Linked DNA regions of Homo sapiens. The protein of the gene in region 2 interacts with the protein of the main gene of each other region in a pairwise test. Each region holds a gene or a part of one and is shown on either strand. Other genes may lie near its edges. The genes, in order: NFYC and ADGRF5.

Evidence for each region.
Region 1: the proteins of ADGRF5 (region 2) and NFYC interact in binary tests that used the Homo sapiens proteins (3 or more experiments, as listed by UniProt).

The regions. Positions count from the first base shown.
Region 1 is NC_000001.11:40,746,909-40,750,725, reverse strand, and holds part of NFYC (nuclear transcription factor Y subunit gamma), read right to left. Parts: intron 3,193-3,817; coding exon 3,121-3,192; intron 1,154-3,120; coding exon 1,040-1,153; intron 1-1,039. UniProt on the Homo sapiens protein: Component of the sequence-specific heterotrimeric transcription factor (NF-Y) which specifically recognizes a 5'-CCAAT-3' box motif found in the promoters of its target genes.
Region 2 is NC_000006.12:46,918,881-46,923,236, reverse strand, and holds the start of ADGRF5 (adhesion G protein-coupled receptor F5 precursor), read left to right. Parts: upstream 1-1,298; 5' UTR 1,299-1,524; intron 1,525-4,356. UniProt on the Homo sapiens protein: Adhesion G protein-coupled receptor. In alveolar type II (ATII or AT2) cells, required for normal lung surfactant homeostasis.

The DNA.
Region 1 (3,817 bases), on a different chromosome or scaffold from region 2:
CTAATCTGAATTGATCTTGAAGGGAGCTTTAACTGGATCTCTCTGGATCCACAGACTAACTTCAAGGCAACATAAATTTTGTGACTTCAACATGCATATCATTTATTGGAGCTCAGTATTTTTTGCTTTTTTTGCTTTAAAACTTTCATATAGTAATGTACACAAATCCTAACTTTATGACGCATTGACAAGCTGTACTAGAATGCAGGCTTCCCACAGATAAGGATTTTTGTCTGTTGTGTGTATCGTTAATCCCCAGAGCCTAGAAAAGTGCCCGGCACATTGTGGGTGTTCAGTAAGTATTTTTAGAATAAATGAATAAACACATGCATTTTCTACTTTGTAGGTAAAGGGAAACAAGAAGAGAAAATAATTTACTTTCTTGGCTTCATTGTTAAAATACTGCCACCACTGTTTTATACTTGTTACACTCTTCTTCTTGTATCTGGGAAATCTTTCCTCTAAGAGCCAGGGCTTGGCTATAGGGTGAGGGTTTCTAGAGTCAATGACCAAGGGCTCTGCATACAGTATGAATGTGAATTCGCTAGGTTAAAAATTAAAATTAAAAAAAAAAGAAGAAGAAAAAGAAAAGGACTCCCAGGAAGGCTGACAAGGAACAAAAAGCCTAATGAAGCTAGTGAGACTGATGATACTTCCTGGAATCTCTCAAGGCTCCCAACCAGAAGTTGATTACGTTTGGAAACAGGTAAATACTCTTATCACTTGAGCCTCTGTTTATAGTGAGGGCTCACCAAGGGAAAAGAGTTCAGTCACTAAGCTGTGAAAACCAGGAGAGAATTGATTAAGATTTTTGGTGGAGAAACACAATCACCATGGCTAGAAGGTATGTCTGCCTCCCAACAGTGGTGATGCCAATGACACGTCAGCTTGATAGAGGCCTAAAGGAGAACAATCTTTGGTCCTAAAGGAGAACAATCTTTGGTCCTAAAGGAGAACAATCTTTCTCCAACACCACGCAGGAAAACAGGCAAAGGCTGCTGCTTACCCCAGTTTTCCTAATCTAAGTCTGCAATAATACCTGTAGAGTCCGGCGCTTGTTATCTTCTGTGTGAATCCAGGCTCGAAGAGTCAACTCTGTGATAAAAATCTGGGCTGCCTTGGCAAAGAGTACAGGCGCTTCTGCACTGATCATCTGTAACAGACACAGGCCCTCCCTGTCAATCACCAGCAAGTCATGCAAACCAGTCTGTCTCTTGCCTCATTGCCTGGCATGGGACTATGGGGCAAGGGTCAAAAAATGAGGTGGTATACTCAAGAGATTCCAAGGTAAAATAAATCCATGAGTGGGAACAAAGCAGGTAACAGGGAGAAAGAATACTTATCTAGCACATACCATGCGCCAAACCTTGTGCAAGGTGTTTTCTTACTCTTATAATAGCCTTTCAAAGAAACTAGGGGTCAAGAGAGATGAAGTGACTTGCCCACAGCCATAGAGCCAGTAAGTGGCAGGGTTTAGGTTCTAATCCAAGGAGAAACAATATGAGGAAGGAGAATGAGCTTGAAAGCCAATGGATTTGGATAAAATTGCAGGCTTCCCATCCTTTTGGGCTTTTTCATGTACTGAAAAAGAGGATAACCTTTCAGTTTTATTGTGGCAATCAAATGAGATAATATATGTACCCAGCCCAGGGCTTGGCATATAGGAAATGCTCAAGCCATATAAACTTTCTTGATGTGTCTGATTTCAAAGTTGAAGCTCTTGGTCAAACAAGGTTCTAAACCTTTGGTGAGGTAGTCTGTGCAGGATACAGCCACAGAAAGAGCTCTGGAGTTAAAGAAGCAGCAGATGGGAAATGGGATCTTGGTCCTATCACTCTGGGTGAGTCACTTAACCTCTTTGTGTCTATTTCCATTGTCTGTAAAATGGAACTGATAATTCTTATTATATCAAATCTCACAGGGCTACTGTGAGGAAGAAAGGAGCTAATAAAAGGGAAAATTACTATCAATTGTTAGCTTTCTGTGAAAATACAAAAGACTATTAATTTTGAGTGGTAAAGAGACAGAGTTCCTCTTTCTCTGAGATCTGTAATGGAGATGGACTCCTAGGAATACAGAAATGGCCAAGCCCACGCAAACCCTCTCACAAGTATTATTCATGTAAAAGAAACTCATAGATCAAAAGGTTAGAACAGGTAGAATATCATTATCAAAAATTTCTTAAGAGTTCAGATCAACAAACTATGTAAGACGCTAAGATGATGGCACTGTCCTGTTGATTTGATGATACATGTATATACTACACTGTGAACAGAACTGTGAGATACCAGCTGGGCATGGTGGCTCATGCCTAATCCTAGCACTTTGGGAGGCTGAGGCTGGAGGACTGCTTGAGCCCAGGAGTTCGTGACTAGCCTGGACAACATGGTGAGATCCTGTCCCCCACTCCAAAAAAACATTAAAAATTAAGCCAGACATGATGGCACGTGCCTGTAGTCCCAGCTACTTGGGAGGCTGAGGTGGGAAGATCACTTAAGCCTGGGAGGTGAAGGCTACAGTGAGCCGTGATTATGCCATTGCCCTCCAGCCTGGGTGACAGAGTGAGACCCTGTCTCAAAAAGAAAGAAAAGGCCAGATGCGGTGGCTCACACCTGTAATCCCAGCACTTTGGGAGGCAGAGGCAGGCATATCACCTGAGGTCGGGAGTTCAAGACCAGCCTGGCCAACATGGTGAAACCCTGTCTCTACAAAAAATACAAAAATTAGCTAGGTGTGGTGGCGGGCGCCTGTAATCCTAGCTACTCGGGAGTCTGAGGCATGGGAATTGCCTGAACCTGGGAGGCAGAGGTTGCAGTGAGCTAAGCTCGCACCACTGCACTGCGGCCTGGATAACAGAGTAAAACTCTCAAAAAAAAAAAAAAAACCCAACATCAACTATTTTTTCAACATCTAAAAAATTTTCAGGATGATCCATATAGTAACCAAAACTGCTCAATTTTGGCTCACTTAACAATTTTGCACAGGAACCAAATAACAAAGCAACAGACAGTAATTTTTGTGTGTTCTTGTTTAATTAAACTTTGAGCTCTAGAGAAATGAGCAATAACCTACCCATCACTTAGCTTCAATAAGAAATAATAAAAATGAATGTGAATTCACCTTCACATCTTCATCCAGTTTCATAATCTTCTTAATACGAGCCAGTGGGAGTTCCTGCACTCGGAAGTCTTTCTGAAATGAACAACAAGAGATGCATAAATGGTGGGGACAATCAACAGTGTGGCAAAGCATGACAGGCAGTAGGAAACACTCTGGCTTGGTCCCTCTCTTCAGGAAGCGTATGTCGGGAGAGAAGGTACAGATGAAATGAAGAAAATACAAGCTCCAGAGCAAAATTCTTCTTTACTTAACATATGCAGGTCTTCAAAGAATTAATGGGCTTTAGAAAAAGCTTAGGATGGCCTCTAACAGTGCTCTCATGAAACACAGCCCCAAGCAATATCTGTTTTTTTTTTTTTTTCGTCAGCACAACATAGAGGGACATTATGAGCGCCTTCTTTTTTTTTCCAAGTAAGTTTACCAGTCTGCAATATGCAGATTAAAATGAGATTTCTGTCTCAGGGGTATTCCTCTAAACTGCCAGTTCTTTCTTCCATTCAGTGACCAAACTAACAGCAACGCCGGGGCACTTGACCACAGTGATCCACAGTTCTTTACAACTGATAGTGGCCATTTCTGACATTTGCACTAACCTGACAACAGAAACTGGGGAGGAGAGCTCCTTTCTCATCACAGTAGCAATGGCCTTGTCTCCAAAATTTGTTTCAAGTGGGGGTAGAGGAGTATAGAAAAAGGA
Region 2 (4,356 bases):
CTGAATCTCAGGGCCAGGAGCAGTGGCTCACGCCTGTAATCCCAGCACTTTGGGAGGCCGAGGCTGGGGATTACCTGAGGTCAGGAGTTTGAGACCAGCCTGGCCAACATGGAGAGACCCTGTCTCTATTAAAAATACAAAAATTAGCCAGATGTGCTGGTAGGCACCTACAGTCCCAGCTACTGGGAAAGCTGAGGCAGGAGAATCGCTTGAACCCAGGAGGCAGAGGTTGCAGTGAGCCAAGATCGCGCCACTGGACTCTAGCCTGGGAGACAGAGCGAGACTCCGTCTAAAAACAAAACAACACTGAATCTCAATAGGGTCAAGTAATGTGTACCCGGCCACATATAATTGGTGGGACTAAAGCATCAGTTCCTACAGTCTGACTCCAGAGTCCTTTCTTTGACACTATGAGGAATTCCCTGAAGATACTCTTGGGACTACCTGCATGGGACTCACCCGAAGCACTTATTTCCAATGCCGATTCCAAGCCAGGCCTCATTCATCAAACTTTCTGTGGGCAGAGCTCCAGAGTAGAGAGTCAAACAGCATTCCCCATCCGTGTTCTGACCTTGGGAAGGGTTCTCCTTGGGCCTCAGTTTCCTCTTTTGTAAAATGAGGATCAGTGAGGTCACTTCCAGTTCAAAAATGAGCTGACTATAATTCATCTTTAAACCCAGCAACCTGGATGCAGCCTGCCAACCAGGCCTTTACCATATATCTCCTTATCTTTAAATATCCATGCTATTGAGCGGTATTTTAAGTACCACTAAATTTATAGTTTGATACACAAATACTCACAGAGTTTCCCTGGAAACCTAGGAGAACTGGACGTCCCTCCAATATGGCATTTTTGAGGTACAGCCCTCCCGCGGGGGAGGACTAAGCAACTTCTCTAGGTCTCTTCTCTTCTGCGGATTCTTTTTTTCTCTGCTTTCTTGGCACTGCTAAAGACAAAGAATTCATCGATAGTCTTAATTTTCCTTCCTCTCTGAAGTTACAATCTAATTTAGTGGTCATCTTTTAAAAGTTGAAACCAGACATCCTGTACTTCTCATTAGCTCTAACCTATGTTTGGTTTGCTCTGGTTTTGCTTTTCTGATTTTTTTCTTTGGAGAAAGAAAAGTGAGAACTAGGGGCATTGGCCAAACAAGTCTGTCCACTTGGTGGAGAGGTTTCCAGATAAGAAGGATCTGAAGGACTTCCCATGGGCGTGAGGGAAATCGCACACGCCATCCGGGGAAGAGGACCAGGAAATCACTTTTTGTTTTTAAAACAGCAGCGCGGCTCTCAGGGATGACTCTGTGAGACTGGGAGGATCATAGCTGGGGGAGGCTGAGCGTGGGAGCGGTGCTGCCAGTCCTGCCTGAAAACGCGAAATGAGTCTTGCTTGGTTCTCCCTCCACTGGGCGTGAGAGCCCCTGCCCAGGAGGCCCAGGACAAATGGCCCCATAGTGGAAACTGGGAAGCTTTTAGGCATCTGATCAGAGCGGGAGCCAGCCGGGGGACCACAGTGCTGGACAGGTAACAGACATTTCTCCTACTGCGGTCTGTCATTCTGTCTCCCTTTGTAGCAAGACCTCAGGGGCTCCTAAGTCACTTCTCTTAAGACATCTTCCACTTACGATCCTCTTTGCCTGCTTTTCTTTTGCGTAGGTGTGATATGTATGTTGGGAAAGTTAAGTATGTCCAGTCAAGAGCATTGTGCATACTGTTGGTCCAGTTAATGAGACTATATTAAAGGAGATGGCGTATCAAGCAACTAGCTGGGATCCTTTAGGATTTTCTTAATAACAGACTTTTTTTTTTTCAAACAAGTTCTCTCGTCCTTAAACCAGAAAATACTATAAAAACCAGTGCATTCATGAGCTACTGAGCTGCTGCTCTTGCCAAGAGCATTTCAGGGCCAGTCGGCCATTGCTGTGGTCAGGCTGAGGAAGGAAGAGGCTGCATCCCAGTAGCAGGAGGAGGGAGCCCTGGCTATTCGCTCAGCTTCGGGAGAGTCCTTCCAAAGGACAAGGGATGACCTTAGAAATGTAAAATGTAGGCTGCAGCCTCCCACACAGGACTGAGGGGAAAGGAGTTTGTAGTCAGCATTAGGAAGGAGGTCAGTAAAAGTGCTGGGGCTTCAGGGCCAGGCCGACTTGTTTTGAAAGGAGCAACTCTATGATGTGCGGTTTGCTTAAACCATGTTTTCTCATATTTCAGAAAGCCAGGTCATGCCACTTCACTACAGCATTTTTTCTTTCATAAAGGGCTAACGTAGTTGGTTTTTCAATGTAGGTTATTTTTGAATTACACAGATAATACTTGACTATATTCTTATCGTAAAAGAATATCTCTAAATAGATTTTATTTTTATTTTTATTTTTTTGAGATGGAGTCTTGCTCTGTCGCCCAGGTTGGAGTGCAGTGGCACGATCTTGGTTCACTACAACCTCTGCCTCCCGGGTTCAAACGATCCTCCTGCCTCAACCTCCCAAGCAGCTGGGATTACAGGCACCCGCCACCACACCCTGCTAATTTTTGTATTTTTAGTAGAGATGGGGTTTCACCATGTTAGCCAGGTTGGTCTCGAACTCCTGACCTCAGGTGATCCACCTGCCTCGGCCTCCCAAAATGCTGGAATTACGGGTGTCAGCCATCGCAGCCAGCTTTCTGTTAACAGTTTTCAATTGCACCCCCAATATACACTCTCTTCCCCCCCCCCAAATATTATTCTATCAATTGTTTTCTGTGTTACCAGTTAAAGGCTTTATTTTCTGTTCTTCTGAGCTCTATAGGACAAGCCGGGGCACAGGAGTACAATAAATTCTCATTGTCAAGTTCTTGTGATTTATCCTAAACTCCTTCCTCTCAGTGAAAGATAAAATGATACATGGGAAACATGAATAGCTCTTTTAACTCTTAGAAAAGTATAAAGAGTTTTACTCATTTTTACCATTACTATTTTGTGTTGGTTTTGGCTTTGACAATTAATAATATTAGTAACAACCTCCTAAGGATTAAATTCTAGATTTGCCAATTAGTGGTTTGGGCTTTTCCCTTGAAGGGCATCAGAAGTTTCTTATTCTAGAAATGAAAGGGGAGAAGATAAAATAACAGGAAATTAACTAGATAGATAATAGCTAGATTGATAGATAAAGTGGCCCAGAGAACGTAGAGTGAAGACAGGAGAGATTGCCCTTTTATTCAGTGGATAATAAATGCATTTAACAGATCGGTTCATTTTCCATCTCTTTTAGTCTTCTGTAAAAAGGTGGCCTTCCCCTCCCCACCAACAATGTTAAGAGACAAGCAAATAAGGAAAACATCACTATGAACAAGTTAATACAGCTTATGGAGAGAGCCTTTGGGAAAAAGGTATAAATAAGCAGTATCAAACCCAAGAATAATACGAACACTTTCAATAGCTATTTCATATTTTCTTGTTCTTTACAGGGTTTCTCCACCCCAAACTATAGAGCCACTAGGCCTTGCTGATTTTGGACGTTCTGTAAAATTTGCCTGCCTTTGTCCCTTCTCCAGATCTCTGGCTACTCCGATGAATCATTTCTTCCAAGTGCACAGTGTTAGCCACATGAGAGACCTCCACTGAGGCCCTGTAGACTAACACTGCCTCACTTACTGAGTGTGGGTTTATTGACTATGATATAGTAACCTCACTTACTGCGCTATGGGGTACTTGGGGGCATTTTGGAGCAGTTAAAAATATCCCATGGGGTCCCACCTCCTCACGTTAATGAGGCTAATCTGTCTCCTCCTAAATATTATGCATTCAATCTCTTGTATTTATATGCAACTTTTTAGTTATCAAAAGACTTTTATGCCTCTTCTTTCACCATGTCACAGGTAAAGCAGGTAACTTATTCTCATCTAATGGAATACAAAAACAGGAAGTTCAGAGGTTAATTTATTTGCCTCAATGGCACAATGAATTTTTTTGGAGGACTGAGATGAGAAGAAACTCAGATTACTGTCTTTGCAGCCCCATTTTTTTTATGTCAGTACTATGAGGATAAAAGTCATGTGGAATAGAGAATTGATGCGATTGGCTGGATTCTGTCAGCTTTGTAGCCACATGGTAGATGTTTGCTGGGAATCTAAAGTTAGACTAAACTATTGCTTTGTCCAGATATTAGCAAGTTCTATCACCTGCTGTCCATCGGCGTCACCCTAGGAACTTAACAAAGAGAAAACAATGTCTAGACACTTTGCCAGAGAAACTGAATCACTATCTCTGAGGATGGGGCCAGGGCATGGTTAGATTTTTTGTTTGTTTGTTGTTTTTAATCTCCAAAGTGATTCTATAATGCAGCTGGGGTTGAGATTCACTGAGTCTTGGCTGTGTAAGAT